2 separate regions of the Homo sapiens genome follow, and region 1 is linked to region 2. The links come from fine-mapping of genetic effects on gene expression. A gene starts in region 2. The other region holds a variant in brackets. All regions are shown on one strand. Distances are between the middles of the regions. Region 1 overlaps SMARCB1 (SWI/SNF related BAF chromatin remodeling complex subunit B1). Region 2 holds the start of SMARCB1 (SWI/SNF related BAF chromatin remodeling complex subunit B1).

Region 1 (8,203 bases), 35 kb before region 2:
AAGCGTGAGAAAGCCTCAAAGGTATCACCGCTCACACAGAGAAGTCTTTCTCAAAACAGTTTTGCAGGGAGATGAGGGAGGGAGAGACTCATGCATGATCCTACCTGAAGGCGTAGGTCTTCTGATGCCAGCTCAGCTGTCCCCGGATGCTGTATGCGATGGTGGTGACAAACTCCCCGCCCAACCCCAGCTCCGAGCACAGCTTCAGGGCAAACTTCTCTGGTGAGTTCTCCTTCTCTGACATGTCCCACTCAAACTGGTCCACCAGGGAAATGTTTCCCACATGGATGTTCAGCTGAGGCAACAACCAAAGGACACAAGTTAGAGCTTTTGCAGCCCAGGGAGGCCGCGAGGAGCGGGGCCCTGCCAGGCCTGGGGTGGGCCCTGCCCACCAGGGTCCACCAGCTGAGAACTGCAGGTGGTCCTTGTCCTTCCAGTTCCCCATCCCCAAAACAAGGCTGACCCCACAACCCTGTCTGCCATGAGGGGCTCTGGCTCAGGGCCCAGCACAGTCACCCTCGGGAGGCCCTGAAGTGACCCCGGGGGCACCTGAGTCCCACCTTACCTTCATCCCATCTCCCCTGTGCCCTGTGCTGGTGGGGACCTTCCTTTCTGCCCTTCGCTCCTGCTGCCATCGGTCTTACGTGACTACACCAGAAAGGCAGGGCTCAGCTAAGGCATCCCTAAGCCCTGTCTTGAGCCAATGTCTATGCCCTTTACAGAGCTTGCCCCTCTCGGAAAACCCTGCCTAGCGTGTTCACAGATGCACCCCACTCTGGGTCAACACGGTGAGGGGACAGGGAAGCCTGCAGGGATCACAGTGCTGGGCCAGCTCCTCCACATTCCCCAGAGGACTCCCTGCAGCACGTGACTCACAGCCAGAGGGCCCAGGCCCCGGGTGTGCTGTCAGGGGTTTTCCACTAGTGGACACCTGGGAAGCCAGCACCCAGCTGAGAGAACACAGACTGTACCCCAGGGGCTCCCACCTACACCTGCCCCCCTGGGGAGGCACCATTTTGACTTCTCACCCCTTGAGTAGGTGTGGCTGTTCTGAATAGGATGGACACTTCGGGGTCCAGGTTCATTCACTCTGCATCATGCTTGCAAGACTCCTCCCATTAGAGTGTGGGGCTGGGGTCATCCCTCACTGCTATCCAGTGCTCCACAGGGCAACCAGGTCACAGTGCACCTGCCCATTCATTGTTGGCCCTTAGCTTTTAAGTCAAGGATCAGGGTGGGCAGCTGCAGGGAAAACTCACCACTGCCTCGGAGTCCAGCCCTTCCGGGGACTTCTGCCTCCTTTTAGAGATTAGGGTACCCCAATCCCCGATCATGTTCATAAAGCCCTGTGCCTCTGAGCCCTGCACATCACCACCCACTTGCTAGAATGCTCTTCCCCTCACCTGGCAGGACCAGCCTCTTCTCAGCATCCTGGTCTAAGCTAAAGTGCCAGCTCCTGAGAGCTCCCCTTCCCATCAGCCCCTTTCCACACCCTTCTCTCCATTTTCTCCCCCTTTGGAGACAGGATGTCACTCTGTCACTCAGGCTGGAGTGCAATGGCATGATCATGACTCACTACAGCCTTGAACTCCTGGGCTCAAGAGACCCTTCTGCCTCAGCCTCCTGAGTAGCTGGAACTACGGACATGCACTACCATGTCTGGCTAATATTTTGTAGAGACAAGGTTTCTACAAGGCCCAGGCAATGTATCAAGTGTTTTGGGCAGAGAAGAGACCCTGTGGTTGAGCCTTCTGTTCCCCGCAGGCTTCCCTGCTGCCTCTCTGTGTTGGCCCAGGCTGGCCTCAAAAGATCCTCCCCCGAGAGTCTCCTGAGTAGCTGCGACTATACGTGCGGGCCACCATGCTGGCACCTCTCCTATTTTCTTCACAGCACTTAGGACTGTCTGAAACAATCTGAATCATTTGCCTCCAGGAATTCTAGCACAGGCAGGGTGTATTTGTTCTGGGAATGAAGGAATCCTCACGCAGAGGGAGGAAGCCGAGGGCAGAGCTGCAGTGTCCTGTACACGGCATGCAGCCAGGCAATGGGGACTGCAGTCGGGCCCCCATGTCCTTTGCTATCTCCACATACGCCCACGCCTGATGATGAATGGAATCGGAGGCACTGGCCCTTCCCAACTGGAATCTAATGCCAAGCAAACCACGTGGGTGCTGGGTCCAAAAAGAACGTGCAGCAGCAGACAGCCCATGGAACCACCCAACAGGACCCCATAGGACCATAGGCACATGGCTCCCACCCAGCAAGCCCTCCCTGCCCTGGGCTCATGGATGGAGTTGCCTGTCCCCTGCCATTCAGTCACTAACACATTCATTTATTCCAAAGTCTAGACTGTGTGTCTACCAAGGAGAGGCACAAGAGAGACAAACATTCAAAAGGCTGTTCTGAGAAAGGTGAGGTGGTACATGTCTGTAGTCTCAGTTACTTGGGAGGCTGAGGTGGGAAGATCACTGGAGCTCAGGTGTTTGAGTCCAGCCTGGGCAACACAGCGAGACTCTGTGTCAAAAAAAAAAAAAAAAAAAAAAAAAAAAAAAAAAAAAAAAAGCTATGCTGGTGGGGGCACTGACAGACACTAAGTAGGTTAAGTGAGCATGTGGTGTACCAGAAAGCACGGGAGTGCCAGGGAGGAAAGGGAGGGAGGGGGAGAAAGTCCAGGCTGGCCTCAGAAGTCAGGAGGCCAGGAAGGCTTCTAGGAAGGTGGCCTTTAGGAAGAAGTGAATGTGCCCAGGGAGCAGGAATGTGGCTCCCTGGGGGAGAACAGTCCCAGGTGGGGGACACAGAGATGTAAAAGACTGAGGAGCCAAGGTCTGGTACCCGGATCTGCCCAGTGAGGGGAAAAGGGAGGAGATGAGGGTGGCGAGGGACTGTAGCAGAGAGCAGTTAGGGCCCTGAGGCCTTTGGACAGGCTTGGCTTCCACAGAGGGATGTGGGAAGCTTCTGCGGTATTTTGGGCAGACAAGAGACATGGGCTGAGCTGCCATGCTGAGACCTCTACTGGAAGGCGGGGAGGGAGGAAGGGAGCCATCTGGCAGTGGCCTTGGTGGGGTAGTGAGGAGTGCTGGACTCCAGGTGGACTCACAGAGCTAAGACGGGGCCAGGACTCCCAAGCAGGTGCACAGCAGGGCCAGGCCCCTGCCCACCTCCCCAGCCCTGACTCACATCTCACCCCATGCACTCTCTGGACGGGGCCTGGACAGTGCCACAGGGTCTGATGGCTCAAACTGCAGCAGCACCATGTCCCCAGCTTCCTCCCCTGCCCCCCAACCCCTGCTGGAACTGGGCAAAGCCGACTTGGGCCAGGTGCCCTGGCAAGGGCAGCCAGGCCTGGGCTTTGGTCCCAGCATTGCCAAGAATATCTGGAAGATGCTGCTCTAACCTAAGGCACTCTTTCTGAGGAGAGAGATGGTCCTCATGTGCCATGGCTCCAAAGATTCTTGTTTTCCTTCAGTCATGTTCCAGGATCAAGACAAAGGACGTCCTTACAGAAACACCCAGCTCTGGCCAGGCACAGTGGTTCATGTCTGTAATCCCAGCAGTTTGGGAGGCCAAGGTGGAAGAGTTGCTTGAGCCCAGGAGTTCGAGACCAGCCTGGACAACAAAGTGAGACTCCATTTTCTCTTTTTTCTTTTTTTTTTTTTTGAGACAGAGTCAGTGAGATGGGAAGAGCCTGTTGCCCAGGCTGGAGTGTAGTGGCGCAATCTTGGCTCACTGCAACCTCCGCCTCCCAGGTTCAAGCAATTCTCATGCCTCAGCCTCCAGAGTAGCTGGGATTACAGGAACGTGCCACCACGCCCAGCTAATTTTTTATATTTTTAGTAGAGACAGGGTTTCACCATGTTGCCCAGGCTTGTCTCGAACTCCTGAGCTCAGGCAATCTGCCCACCTCAGCTCTCCAAAGTCTTAGGATTACAGGCATGAGCCACGGTGCCCAGCCGAGACTCCATTTCCTACAGAAAATTTAAAAATTAGCCAGGCATGGTGGTACGTGCTTATAGTTCCAACTACTCAGGAGGCCAAGATGGCAGGATAACTTGAACCCAGGAGGTCAAGGCTGCAGTGAGCCATGAAAAAAAAGGAAGGAAGAAAGAAATACCCAGCTCTTCTGAGTCCCAATTATAGATGGGAAACCCTGGGTGTGACCTTCTATTCCTCATGGGCAAGACAGGACACTGTTCCCAGGGTCACGGTGCCCAGGAGGCCTCTGGCCTGAAAAATGCAGTCTGTCCCACATAACACAGGCTTCCCTGGGCCAGCTGTGTCCACCCTGTGACATCTGGTCTGACCCAAAGGGCAGAGCAGGACACCTGGCTGGGGACAGTCTCTCAACCTGCCAGCTGCCACCATCCCCCAGGTGGGAATCACAGGTAAGTCAGAGGGTCACTGGGGAAGCCTCTTCTGGTGGGGCAGGGAACAGCCCCAGGAGGATTACAGCTGCTGGGCAACTTCCTGTATGGCTCCTCTGCAGGCCCCGTCAAGACAACAACAATGAAAATGGGCTCAATTCTGAGAAAAACGTTAAGGGAAGCTACCAGTCAGGCTTCATGAGGCCCCTTGTGTGGCCAATCCCAGTCATTTGGAACCACGTGGCTGGGTGGGTTAGCCCACACAGCCTCATCCTCCACATGTTTACAAGACAAAGAGAAGCACAGAGTGGAGCCCTCAGGGCTGCCCTCCAGAGCCAGCAGACCGTATGCAGGACACAGGCCAGGTGCTTGCTGCCACTCCCATCCCCACCCCACTTCTCTCCTACCATTGTCCCTTCTTTTCCTCCTAGCTGGCCATAATGTGAAACTGAAACAAATTTGTATTCCTCTCAAAAAGGTATTAACAAGTAAAGAGACTGAATCAATAATAAAATCTTCCT[GACAA/A]AGAAAAGCCTTAGACCTGATGGCTTCATTGGTGAATTCTACCAAACACTGATTGACTGACTGAGTCAGAGTCTCGCTGTCAGCCAGGCTGGACTGCAGTGGCACCATCTCGGCTCACTGCAACCTCCGCCTCCCGGGCTCAAGCAATTCTCTTGCCTCAGCCTCCTGAGTAGCTGGGATTACAGGTGTGTGCCACCATACCCGGCTAATTTTTGTATTTTTAGTAGAGACGGGGTTTCACCATGTTGGTCAGGTAGTCTCTAACTCCCGACCTCAGGTGATCCGCCCGCCTCGGTCTCCCAAAGTGCTGGGATTACAGGCGTGAGCCACTGCACCCGGCCATCTACCAAACATTTAAATAGGAGCTAACACCAATCCTTCTCAAACTATTCTTTAACTCATTGCCCTGATACCTAAGTCAGACAAAAAATACTACAAGAAAGGAAAACTACAGACCTACACCCCTTATGAATGTTGATGCAAAAATCCTCAAAAAAATGCTGGCAAACTGGCCGGGCACAGTGGCTCACGTCTATAATCCTTTGGGAGGCCAAGGCAGGTGGATCACCTGTGGTCGGGAGTTCGAGACCAGCCTGGTCAATATGATGAGACCCCGTCTCTACTAAAAGTACAAAATTTAGCCGGGCGTGGTGGCATGCGCCTGTAGTCCCAGCTCCTCCTCGAGAGGCTGAAGCAGGAAAATCGCTTGAATCCAGGAGGTGGAAGTTGCAGTGAGCCAAGATCATGCCACTGCACTCCAGCCTGGGTAACAGAGCGAGACTCTGTCTAGAAAAAGAAAAGAAAAGAAAAACTAACAAGTGTGAGTGAGGATGTGGAGAAACTGGAACCCCTGCGCCTTGCTGGTAGGAATATAAAAGGTGCAGCCACCGAGAAAGGCAGTATAGTGGATCCTCAAAAAACTAAACATGGAATTACTGTACGATCCAGGAATTCCATTTCTAGGTATACACCCAAAAGAAATGAAAGCAGGGGCCAGACACAGGGGCTCACACCTATAATCCCAGCACTTTAGGAGGCCGAGGTGGGCAGATCATTTGAGTTTGGGAGGCTGAGGCGGAGTTTGAGACCAGGCTGGCCAACATGGTGAAACCCGGTCTCTATTAAAAATCCAAAAAAATTAGCTGGGCATGGTGGTGGGTGCCAGTAATCCCAGCTACTCAGGAAGCTGAAGCAGGAGATTGCTTGAACCTGGGAGGCAGGAGTGCCATGAGCCAAGATCGCGCCACTGCACTCCAGCCTGAGCAACAGAGTGAGACTCCATCTAAATGAATGAATGAATGAATGAATGAATAAATGAAAACAGGGACACCAACAGATACCTGCACACCCAGGTTCATAGCAGCATTATTCACAATAGCCAAAATGTGGAAGCAACCCAAGTGTCTGTCCATTTAGGGATGAATAAATAAAAATGTGATAGATCCATACAACAGAATATTATTTAGCCTTAATAAGAAAGGAGGCTGGGCGCAGTGGCTCACGCCTGTAATCCCAGCACTTTGGGAGGCTCAGGTGGGCAGATGGCTTGAGCCCAGGAGTTTGAGACCAGCCTGGGCAACATGGCGAAACCCCATCTCTACAAAAAAAATACAAAAAATCAGTCGGGTGTGGTGGAGTGTGCCGGTAGTCCTAGCTTCCCAGCTACTCAGGAGGCTGCACCGGGTGGATCACTTGAGCCCAGGAAGCAGAGGTTGCAGTGAGCCATAACTGCGCCACTGCACTCCAGCCTGGGCAACAGAGTAAGACCCTGTCTAAAAATAAATACATTTTAAAAAGGGAAGGAAATTCTGACATGGTGCAACATAAATGAACCTTGAAGACATTCTGCTAAGTGAAATAAGCCAGTCACAAAAGGACAAATACTGCATGATTCCCTTAGGAATGTAAATGAGACACCTCGAGTAGTCAAATTCATAGAGACAGAAAGCAGAATGGTGCTTGCCAGGGGTGGGGGGAGGGGGAATGGGGAGTTAGTGTTTGATGGACAGTTTCAGTTTTACATGATGATAGAATTCTGGAGATGGATGGTGGTGATAATTACACAGCCATGGATGTGAATATACTGCCACTGAATTTACACTTAAGTGGTTAAAATGGTAAATTTTATGTTATGAATGTTACCACAATTTTAAAATATTAATCAAGAAAACAAAGTATTGGCCAGGTGTGGTGGCTCATGCCTGTAATCCCAGCACTCTGGGAGGTCGAGGTGGGCAGATCACGAGGTCCAGAGATCGAGACCATCCTGGCTAACGCGGTGAAACCCAGTCTCTGCTATAAAAAATACAAAAAATTAGCCAGGCGTGGTGGCAAGCGCCTGTAGTCCCAGCTACTTGGGAGGCTGAGGTAGGAGAATGGTGTGAACCCAGGAGGCGGAGCTTGCAGTGAGCTGAGATCGCACACTGCAAGCCAGCCTGGGCGACAGAGTGAGACTGCGACACACACACACACACACACACACACACACACACACACCCAAAGTATTTCGGCCAGGTGCGGTGGCTCATGCCTGTAATCCCAGCACTTTGGGAGGCTGAGGTGGGTGGATCACCTGAGGTAAGGAGTTTGAGACCAGACTGACAAATATGGTGAAACCCTGTCTCTACTAAAAATACAAAAATTAGCCTGGCTTAGTGGCGGGCAACTGTAATCCTAGCTACTCAGGAGGCTGAGACAGGAGAATTGCTTGAACCCGGGAGGTGGAGGTTGCAATGAGTCAAGATCGAGCCACTGCACTCCAGCCTGGGCGACACAGTGAGACTGTCTTGACTAACTAAATAAGATATTTAGTTGTTTGTTACTTGGGGGACCACAGAGGAAGTTGCTGGTGATTCCCCCACGTTATTTTCCAAAATCTTAGTAAAGTGCCACGGAGAACCACAGTGGGAAGAAGTCGGCCCAGGCTCCATCTGGTGCACGGGGCAGAGGCATCCCTCAGTCACAGGAGGCATCCCTCCCGAGGCTCCTCGACCCCAAAGACTATTTTCAGGAACCCTTTGTAACATGGCTCTTATTTTTATACATCAATGTTTTCCTAAAATGGAAGCCAAAGGCACAGCATCAGATCTAACCAAACCACTGACCTTTTTAGGGTCATCACATGTGCCAATTTCACCTACTTCTCATATCTTCCTATTTTCAAAGCTCCCCTCACCCTCAAGGCATAGTCTGGCAGTGGCGGCTCAGCACAGCAAGGATTATGCTATAGGCTCTGCAGGGTGCAGGCCTGCGCCCAATCGCCAGCCTCACCATTTCTCAACTGGCCAGTTTGCAACTTCCGCAGGTGATCTCAGCTC
Region 2 (8,448 bases):
TTAAAAGAAATTGACAATACTCCCCCCTATGACTACCTTGCAGGCCCTGCAGGGCTCTGAGTCTCCTAGATGCCCCCCAAAGCCCCTTCAGAACTTAGGAAACTGGGCTTGCCTTCCTGGCTTTCCTCTGAACCAGCCTTCACCCTCTTGGGACCCAGGTTTCCTGAATATAAAATCAAGGTGCTGGACTTGGGGATCTGTTAGGGTCCTCAAAGCTCCATGACTCCGGCTTGGTAAATACAGCTGTCTGTTAATGGCAGAACAGTGACACACACTCTTAGTAAATGCAGATGCCTTCCCAAGACAGCTCCACAGATGGCGCATGGAGGCACTGGGTATGTTGCTATGGCTGGCCCACCTCTCTGAATACAGTGCCTGTTTTCCACAGGGCAGTGGGCTGAGACCGTCCATCCACTACTATCACTGGAGCTACTGAATTTCAATAGAGCTCTGACCTTGAACTCTTCCCTAAACTCCGAAGGTCTGATGATTAAGTCAGGCCCAAAAGAACAAACTGCCTCTCCAACTGAGTCTCTTACAGCCTGGGTCTCAGGAAGATTATTCTTACTGGGAGGCCCAGGAGTCAAGGGGCTGAAAGACAAGACTGTAATTAGCTTTCTAGAAACTAAAATGTGTTTTGGGGAAGATCTTGGAGACCATCTAGTCTAAGCATCACATTATACACATGAGAAACACGACAGCAAGGCAGAGCAGGGCTGGAACCAGGCCTCCCAAGGTTCTTCCCACTTGGCCACGCACAGCTTCTCAATTTGCTCCAACTAATAAATGAAAGCTTTCTTTTGAAGTGTCACCTACTTAGAGCCAAACTGATTACTTTTACACCCATTAGATCAGGTAAACAACTCGCCTAGTATCACAGGCTGAAATTTGACACCTTTTGCATTCTGCAGTTAGGCAGGTGCCTACTGGCCAATGAGGACCATTCTGAACTGTGGCAGATGGACAGGCACTGGCTCTACCTCCCCAGCACTGGCATCTTTGAACAGTTGTAATTTAAGTGACAACGTGAAAATTTTATTGAATCCTATATTTTTTGTTTTATAAAAATTAGTGGAGGCCAGGCACAGTGGCTCACGCCTATAATCGAGCACTTTGGGAGGCCGAGGCGGGCAGATCACTTGAGCTCACAAGTTTAAGACCAGCCTGGACAATATGGTAAAACCCCATCTTTACTAAAAATATAAAAATTAGCCGGGTGTGGTGGTGTGTGCGTGTAGTCCCAGCTACTTGGGAGACTGAGGTGGGAGGACGGCTTGAGCCTGGGAGGCGGAGGTTGCAGTGAGCCGAGATTACACCACTACACTCCAGCCTGGGTGATAGAGTCAAACCTCGTCCAGAAAAAAAAAATGGTGGAAAATGCTAACACTAAAGTTCTGATGCTATTGACCTTAGTCTCATCCATGGGACTCAGTGTGACCATCTTGAGGCTTCATTCATTCATGCTATGCTCAATTGTGAAGGATAAAACCCACAAGTTTAAAAAGTATGAATGCGCTGAGTGTGAGTGCAGTAGCTCACACCTGTCATTCCAGCACTTTGAGAGGCTGAGGTGCAAGGATCACTTGAGCCCAGGAGTTCAAGACCAGCCTGGGCAACATGGCAAAACCCTGTCTCTACAAAAAATACAAAAATTAGTCGGGCACGGTGGTGCACACCTGTAGTCCCAGGTACTTGGGAGGCTGAGGCAGGAGGATCGCTTGAGCCCAGGAGGTCAAGGCTGCAGTGAGCCGAGATCACACCACTGCACAAAGTGAGATCTTTTTTCAAAAATAAAAGAAAATAAAGTACGAATAAAATGCTGGAATATGATACTAAAAACTGCTATAAGGAGAAGAAACTCTTGGCATTTCATGATAGCTTTAATTCTCCAGGATTGGCACTTACTTCCTTACATGAGATTCTACTGCTTGACATTTGTACATCTGAACTGTATATCCATAATTTTTTTAAAAAGGTAACATATACTAGCTGGGGACTGCCTTTGGAGCAAAAAAGGCTAGTTTGAGACAATCTGTAAAAACCTAATATATGGCCGGGTGTGGTGGCTCATGCCTGTAATCCTAGCACTTTGGGAGACCCAGACGGGCAGACTGCTTGAGCCCAGGAGTTGGAGACCTGCCTGCGCAACATAGCCAGACCCTGTCTCTATAAAAAACAAAAAACAAGAACCTAATAGACTTGGAACAAACACCCATTCAAAGGCCAGTAGAGTTTTCCTGAAGTCAGTCATCCAGTTGATGCAACAAAATGCAGCCACTCTAGTTAAGGGTTAAACATCCTTAGGCTCTTTCCCCTGTAATAATTCAGAATCAGTTCACAGATATGGAAAGTGTCAATCGCTTCAGAACTGCTGAAAGATCTAGCTTAGGCATGGGGCCCTTATTCACCCAAAAGCAAACATCTTCCTCCAATCTGTTTCTTCACCGGTAAACAAAGGTCAAAAGACCTCCACTGCTCACCTAAGAGGCAACAAACACAATGGGGATGAGCCCTCACTAAGTCCAGGGTTTCCAGCCTGCCATTTGAGGTTCCCACAAGTAGCAATACGGGGAGGGGTGCACGTGAAATTTACGACATCTAAAAAGGGTCAAAGGCAGCAGTGCAGTCCCCCAAGCGTCGCAGGGGCTAACTCAATATCCCGTTTCTTTGCGTCTGACTGGAAACCAACCCAGCGCGGAACCACTGGGGCCCCTCGCGGCGCCAAAATCTTGGCAGCACTGAAGGCGGCGGACCTCGGCGAAATAAGTAAGGAAATCCCAGGTCGATGAGGGGGCGGGGGCCACACCCGACACGCCCACTAGGCCACGCCCCACAGCCCCGAGCGCGCGCGCGCGCGCCCGCCCGCCCCGATGAATGGAGACGCGCGCTCTCGGCGCATGGGCCCGCCCCGGGGCTCCCGCGGGGCCGAGCCCGGGGAGGGCGAGAACGCGCCCCGGGCTACCTCGGAGCCGATCATGTAGAACTCGCCGTCGTCCTCCAGCTGGAACTTCACGGGCTTCTGCCCGAAGGTCTTGCTCAGCGCCATCATCATCATTGCGGCGGCAGAGGCGGGCGGCCGGAGCCGGGCTGCGAGGGATCAGGAGGGCTGGGGCGGGGCCGGGGCGTGCTGGGCCGAGGGAAACCGAAGCCGGAAGGCGAAATGCGGACCGGGCCGGGTACTGGCGCCTCAGCCGGGCTCCTCAGCCGCCGCCGCCGCCGCAGACGACGACCAGGCCGCCCTCAGTGCGCAGGCGCTGGCGTTGACGCTGACGCGCGCGCCGCCGCTCAAACAAAAGGCCGGGCGCGCCTCCGCGGACCCCTTAAAGGAGCCACGACTAATTTCTCTTTCTCCCAGGCTGCCTCCCAAGTCGTGGTGTAGAGGACTTCTCACGGACAAAAATAGCCAATGAGGTCCTGACTCAAGCAGTGGCTTTCCCAGTCTTACAGCCAGGACTGGAACTGAGCCCAGGGGAAAAGCAACGAAGTGAGGCCTGAAGGAGGAGGACCTAGTATCTGGAAGCCTGGGTGGTCTGGGCATGCTTTGGGACCCCAATCTCGTGCCTTAGCTTCCCCACCCCTAAAACGCAGTGCAGCTGAGCAGATAGGCAGGCCCCTAGGAAGAGATATCCCAGTTCCGGGCCTACGGCTGTCCCTGCAGCTGTGGAGGTGGGCAAAATGACAACAGCGGATGAGGCTTGGCAATGTTCAAAGGCCCAGGTGGTATTTGGTTTGGCTGGTGCATCAGATGAGCGTTGGAAGGGAGAGACACCTTCCACCTTCTCCATTCCTCTCTTAGCCTACACTCTGCTTAACCGAGCCCTGCAGTGGGGAGTGAAACCAGGCAGCCCAGCCCTGTGGCTCTGCCTCTTGGCTCTTACAGCGCGAAGCTAGTGAAACTAATGAAAGTCTGAAAGCAATCATGATTGAATAATGCAGGGAGTAAAACAGTGGCCCACTACTGATGATTTCACACCGTTCAATCTAATGAAATTGCAGCTGTGGCTGGGCTCAGCGGCTCATGCCTGTAATCCCAACTCTTTTTTTTTTTTTTGAGGCTGGAGTCTCCTGCCTCAGCCTCCCAAGTAGCTGGGACTACAGGCACCCGCCACCACGCCCAGCTAATTTTTTGTATTTTTAGTAGAGACAGGGTTTCACCATGTTAGCCAGGATGGTCTCGATCTCCTGACCTCGTGATCCGCCCCCCTCGGCCTCCCAAAGTGCTGGGATTACAGGTGTGAGCCACTGCGCCCGGCCTTGTAATCCCAACTCTTTAGGAGGCCAAGGCAGGGAGGATCACTTGAAGCCAGGAGTTTGAGACCAGACTGGACAAGACAGCAAGACCCTGTCTCTACAAAAATTCTAAAATAAATAAGCTGGGTGTGGCATGGCGGTGTGCACCTGTAGCCCCAGCTACTTGGGAAGTGGAGAGGGGAAGATCCCTTGAGCCCAGGAGTTCAAGGTTATAGTGAGCTGATTGCACCACTGCACTGCAGCCTGGGCAACAAAGGGAGACCCTGCCTCTCTTAAAAAAAAAAAAAATGCAACTATGCTATTACGAAGACACACATGGGGCTGGAAGGTAGGGCAAGGAGACACTGGAGAGTTGGGAAGGGCAGTGACTGAAGTTGCTTTGTTCTGTATCCTCACAGTGGTGGGAAACCAAAGTACAGTCATCCCTCAGTATCCATGGGAATTGGTTCCAGGACCCCCTGCAGATAATAAAGTCCACAGATGCTCAAGTCCATTATATAAAATGGTGTCATACTTGCATATAACCTACACACACTTTCCTGTATACCTTAAATCATCTCTAGATTCCTTATACTACCTAATACAATGCAAATGTTATATAAATAGTTGTTATACTATTGTTTAGGGAACAATGATAGGGAAAAAAGTCCGTACATGTTCAGTACAGAGGTAACCATCCCTTATTTATTTATTTATTTATTTATTTATTTACTTATTTTATTGAGACAGAGTCTTGCTCTGTCGTCCAGGCTGGAGTGCAGTGGCATGATCTGGGCTCACTGCAAGCACCGCCTCCTGGGTTCACGCCATTCTCCTGCCTCAGCCTTCCGAGTAGCTGGGACTACAGGCGCCCGCCACCACGCCTGGCTAATTTTTTGTATTTTTAGTAGAGACGGGGTTTCATGGTGTTAGCCAGGATGGTCTCGATCTCCCGACCTCGTGATCTGCTGGCCTCAGCCTCCCAAAGTGCTGGGATTACAGGCATGAGCCACTGCACCCAGCCTATTTATTTACTTTATTATTTTTTTAGACGGAATTTTGCTCTTGTCACCCAGGCTGGAGTGCAATGGCACTATCTCAGCTCACTGTAACCTCTGCCTCCACGTTCAAGTGATTCTCCTGCCTCAGCCTCCCAAGTAGCTGGGATTACAGGCATGAGCCACCACACCCAACTAATTTTTGTATATTTAGTAGAGATGGGTTTTCACCATGTTGGCCAGACTGGTCTCAAACTTCTGACCTCAGGTGATCCACACACCTCGGCCTCCCAAAGAACTGGGATTACAGGCACGAGCCACTGCGCCCGTCCGCATCCTTTTTTTAAACATTGTTTTTTCTACCCGAGGTTAGTTGAGCCTACGGATGCAGAAACCACAGCTATGTATGGCAGGCTGGGCTGTGGCATGAGCAGATAAACCACCACTCTGGAGGATGAACAGAGGGGACAAGTAGGAAAGTGGGGAGCCAGTTAAGAAGCCACTGTAGCAAAATGTGATGTAGAAATGGAGCAGAAGGAGCCCTGAGCACTGTGCCCAGCCCCAAGGGCCAGAGGCTTGGGGGTGGTGGACTTCGACCCTGGCTCCCAGGATAGGGCTGGACAGTGGCCAGGCCTCCCCATCCTGGCTGAACATTCACAAAAGGAGACCAAGCAGGCAGGTAGAAAACAACTGTGTTTAATGACAATCCTCAGTTTAAAAAAAAAAAAAGAAGAAGAAGGTTTATACACACTGTACACACATTTACAATGGCTTTGGAGGATAGCAGTGCTGCGAAAAGGGCTTCAGGAGGATCCGGCCTGGGACAGGATTGAGGTATGTTGCAGCCTCCAGGGCCTGGGGTCTCCTGCATGAAGAATACCCCTCCCCATTTGACTGTGAACTTTTTGGCCTGGATTCTGGAGAACAGATTTCCAGGATTGTCAGCCAGAAGGCAGACAGATGCAGGCACCTACCAAGACCTGACCTCAGGAAGTGGCCCTGCCCTACAGCCCAGTTGCTCAGCCAGGGCTGAAGGCCATGGGGCCCCAGCACCCTTGCTTCAGTGCCAGCCCCTGGAAGGAACCTCACAACAGGGATACAGCAAGGACACTCCAGTTCCCCCAGTCCTGCCATGGTGCTACCCTGAGGGACAGGGATGGAGACAGGGCAGCCAGGTTTGCCAGGACCTGCATAGCGGGCCCAAGACTGCCCTTCCTCTTAAGTCATGCCAAAGCCTCCCTGCCCAGTCTGAGACAGTCGCTGGCAGGTGACCACGACCTGCGTGGCCCTCCCGGCAGTTGTCATGGTGGTTGTACCCCACCCCATCCCCCTGAGGAGACATGGGCTCAGTCCCATGCCTGGTGCCCACAGCCACAAAGATGGCCATGGGTCTCTAGCCTGATATTCGTGGCCTGGCAGGGGTCAGCACCCCTGAGGGCATCCAAGCCATGGTCAGAGGAAAGTGTTGGCAGGCTCGGCACAGCCAAAGAAGTCAGGACCCACGAGACGGGGGAAGCCTTCCAGAGCCTTCACCTTCACAGGGTCAAACTTCCAGTAGAGGCGGCCGCGCAGGAAGTAGGCATAGCCTGAGAAGAGAAGGTGGTCAAGCCTGGGCGAGCGGACACTGGGCCCTACTCCTGCCTGTCAGGCTGTGCCCAGGGATGGGCACTAAGGGAGGGCTGAGTGGGAAGCCCTTGGCCACTGCTGAGTTCCTCGAGTCCTGCAGGATCCAGGGCCGGCCTTTCAGAACCTCTCTTCCCTCTAGGGAGCCCTTCTGCCTGCCCCGGAATCTGGGCTGGGCTAATACCCAGCCTGACAGGTACCCAGAGCCTCAGAGGCCTGAGTCCCACCTCTCAGGAAAGCAAGTCCCGTTGCCCCCACCACCCTCCACATCACTCTCTCCTGCATCTATTAAATTAGCCAGGCTATTGACGGGCACCCTGGAGTCCTGGAGCTGGAGGCTACCCTAGGATAGCTCTCCCAGTGGGTCCTGATGTGGGAGAAAGAGCACAGAAGAGGAGCCTAGCAGGGGAGGGAGCACTGGACTGGCTCTAGCCCCCTGTGGTTGTGGGAGGCTGGGTGGGTCAGTGGTTAGGAGCAGGGACCACCAGGGTAGTCCAGGTTAGGGGCCTCATTGCCTGAGCCTCTGTTTGCTCCTCTGGAAACTGGGTTCACAACAGGTGTCACATCAGAGGGCTGTTCTGAGAACTGGATGAGACCAGTAAGGAGCTTAGAGCATTGTTGGCCCTCAGTGTACAGCAGTTTATTGTTCTACTGGCTGTGGCTGAAAAACCAGGGTAAGACCTTGCACTTCTCTGACCCTCAGTTTCCTCATCTGCAATATGGAATGTAGCACTAGCCGGCCACCGAGAGGAGGGCAGATGGCTCTGGACAAAGGACCTGTGATGAAGAGCCAGACTTCCTGTGGCAGGCATGTGGGAGCCCAGCCACCACCAGGTGGGAGAAGCGGCTGCTGTGCCCACCTCCCACCAGCTGCCTCACCCCCAACGCACCATCAGCATCCTGGAAGGCAGCGTCGATCTCAGAGGGCACCCCTCTCCAGTCAGTGGCCCTGCGGGGCACGGGACTGTCTACACGCCGGGTGCTGGGGTGGAAACGCCAGTAGTCCCTGCCTCGGAAGAAGTAGATCTTGTTCTTCTCGGGACCCCAGACCAAGGCAGCATGGACCGGGAACCTCACCAGGCCCAGCTCGGTGAGGGGTGCGGGGCCCAGGACTGGCTTTTCACCGTCGTACACCCAGTACTGAGCACCTGCCGGAGAGGGAAGGCTGCAAGGACCTGCCCAGCCACCACTGCCATGCCCCGCCACTGTGGACCTGCTTGACCCCTACCACAGACTCTCCCAGCCTCAGTTTCCTCATCAGTAAAACATGCAGGCCAATAATGCCTGCTCAGCACCCCACCCGCAGAGGGAAGCGGGAGGCCTGGGATAAGCTGGGGCAGTGAATGCTCTGTAAACTAGTGCACGGGTGAGGTTACTCTCATCAGTAGAGGGCTGCCTGGGCGGCTGCTCCTTCCACTGGCATTTGGCTGTGACAAATGCCTACTGACCACTCCCTGGGCCCCTGCAGGCTGGACTGCCCTGGAACCCACGCAGGTTTCCCATGCTGTGCCTTCATTTGTGAAGTCCCTGGCATCTGCAATGCTCCAGGCTCTCATCTCTGCCAGTTGAGGATGGAAATCCCAGCTCTAGGATGATA

The links.
Region 1: its variant is fine-mapped to the expression of SMARCB1 in whole blood (INTERVAL, PIP above 0.99).

Annotation. Positions count from the first base shown.
Region 1 is chr22:23,817,317-23,825,519 of GRCh38, reverse strand. It overlaps SMARCB1 (SWI/SNF related BAF chromatin remodeling complex subunit B1), which reads right to left. Exons shown (of 9, transcript NM_003073.5): 7 at 105-295. Among named protein-coding and RNA genes, the nearest start is that of DERL3, 18 kb to the left of the region's middle. RefSeq lists enhancers at 1-303, 304-837. The variant GACAA/A (reference allele first, on the strand shown) is at 4,883.
Region 2 is chr22:23,781,777-23,790,224 of GRCh38, reverse strand. It overlaps SMARCB1 (SWI/SNF related BAF chromatin remodeling complex subunit B1), which reads right to left and starts at 3,259. Exons shown (of 9, transcript NM_003073.5): 1 at 2,963-3,259. The coding sequence starts at 3,055. MMP11 (matrix metallopeptidase 11) reads right to left here. Exons shown (of 8, transcript NM_005940.5): 7 at 7,742-7,999; 8 at 5,909-6,814. The coding sequence ends at 6,681.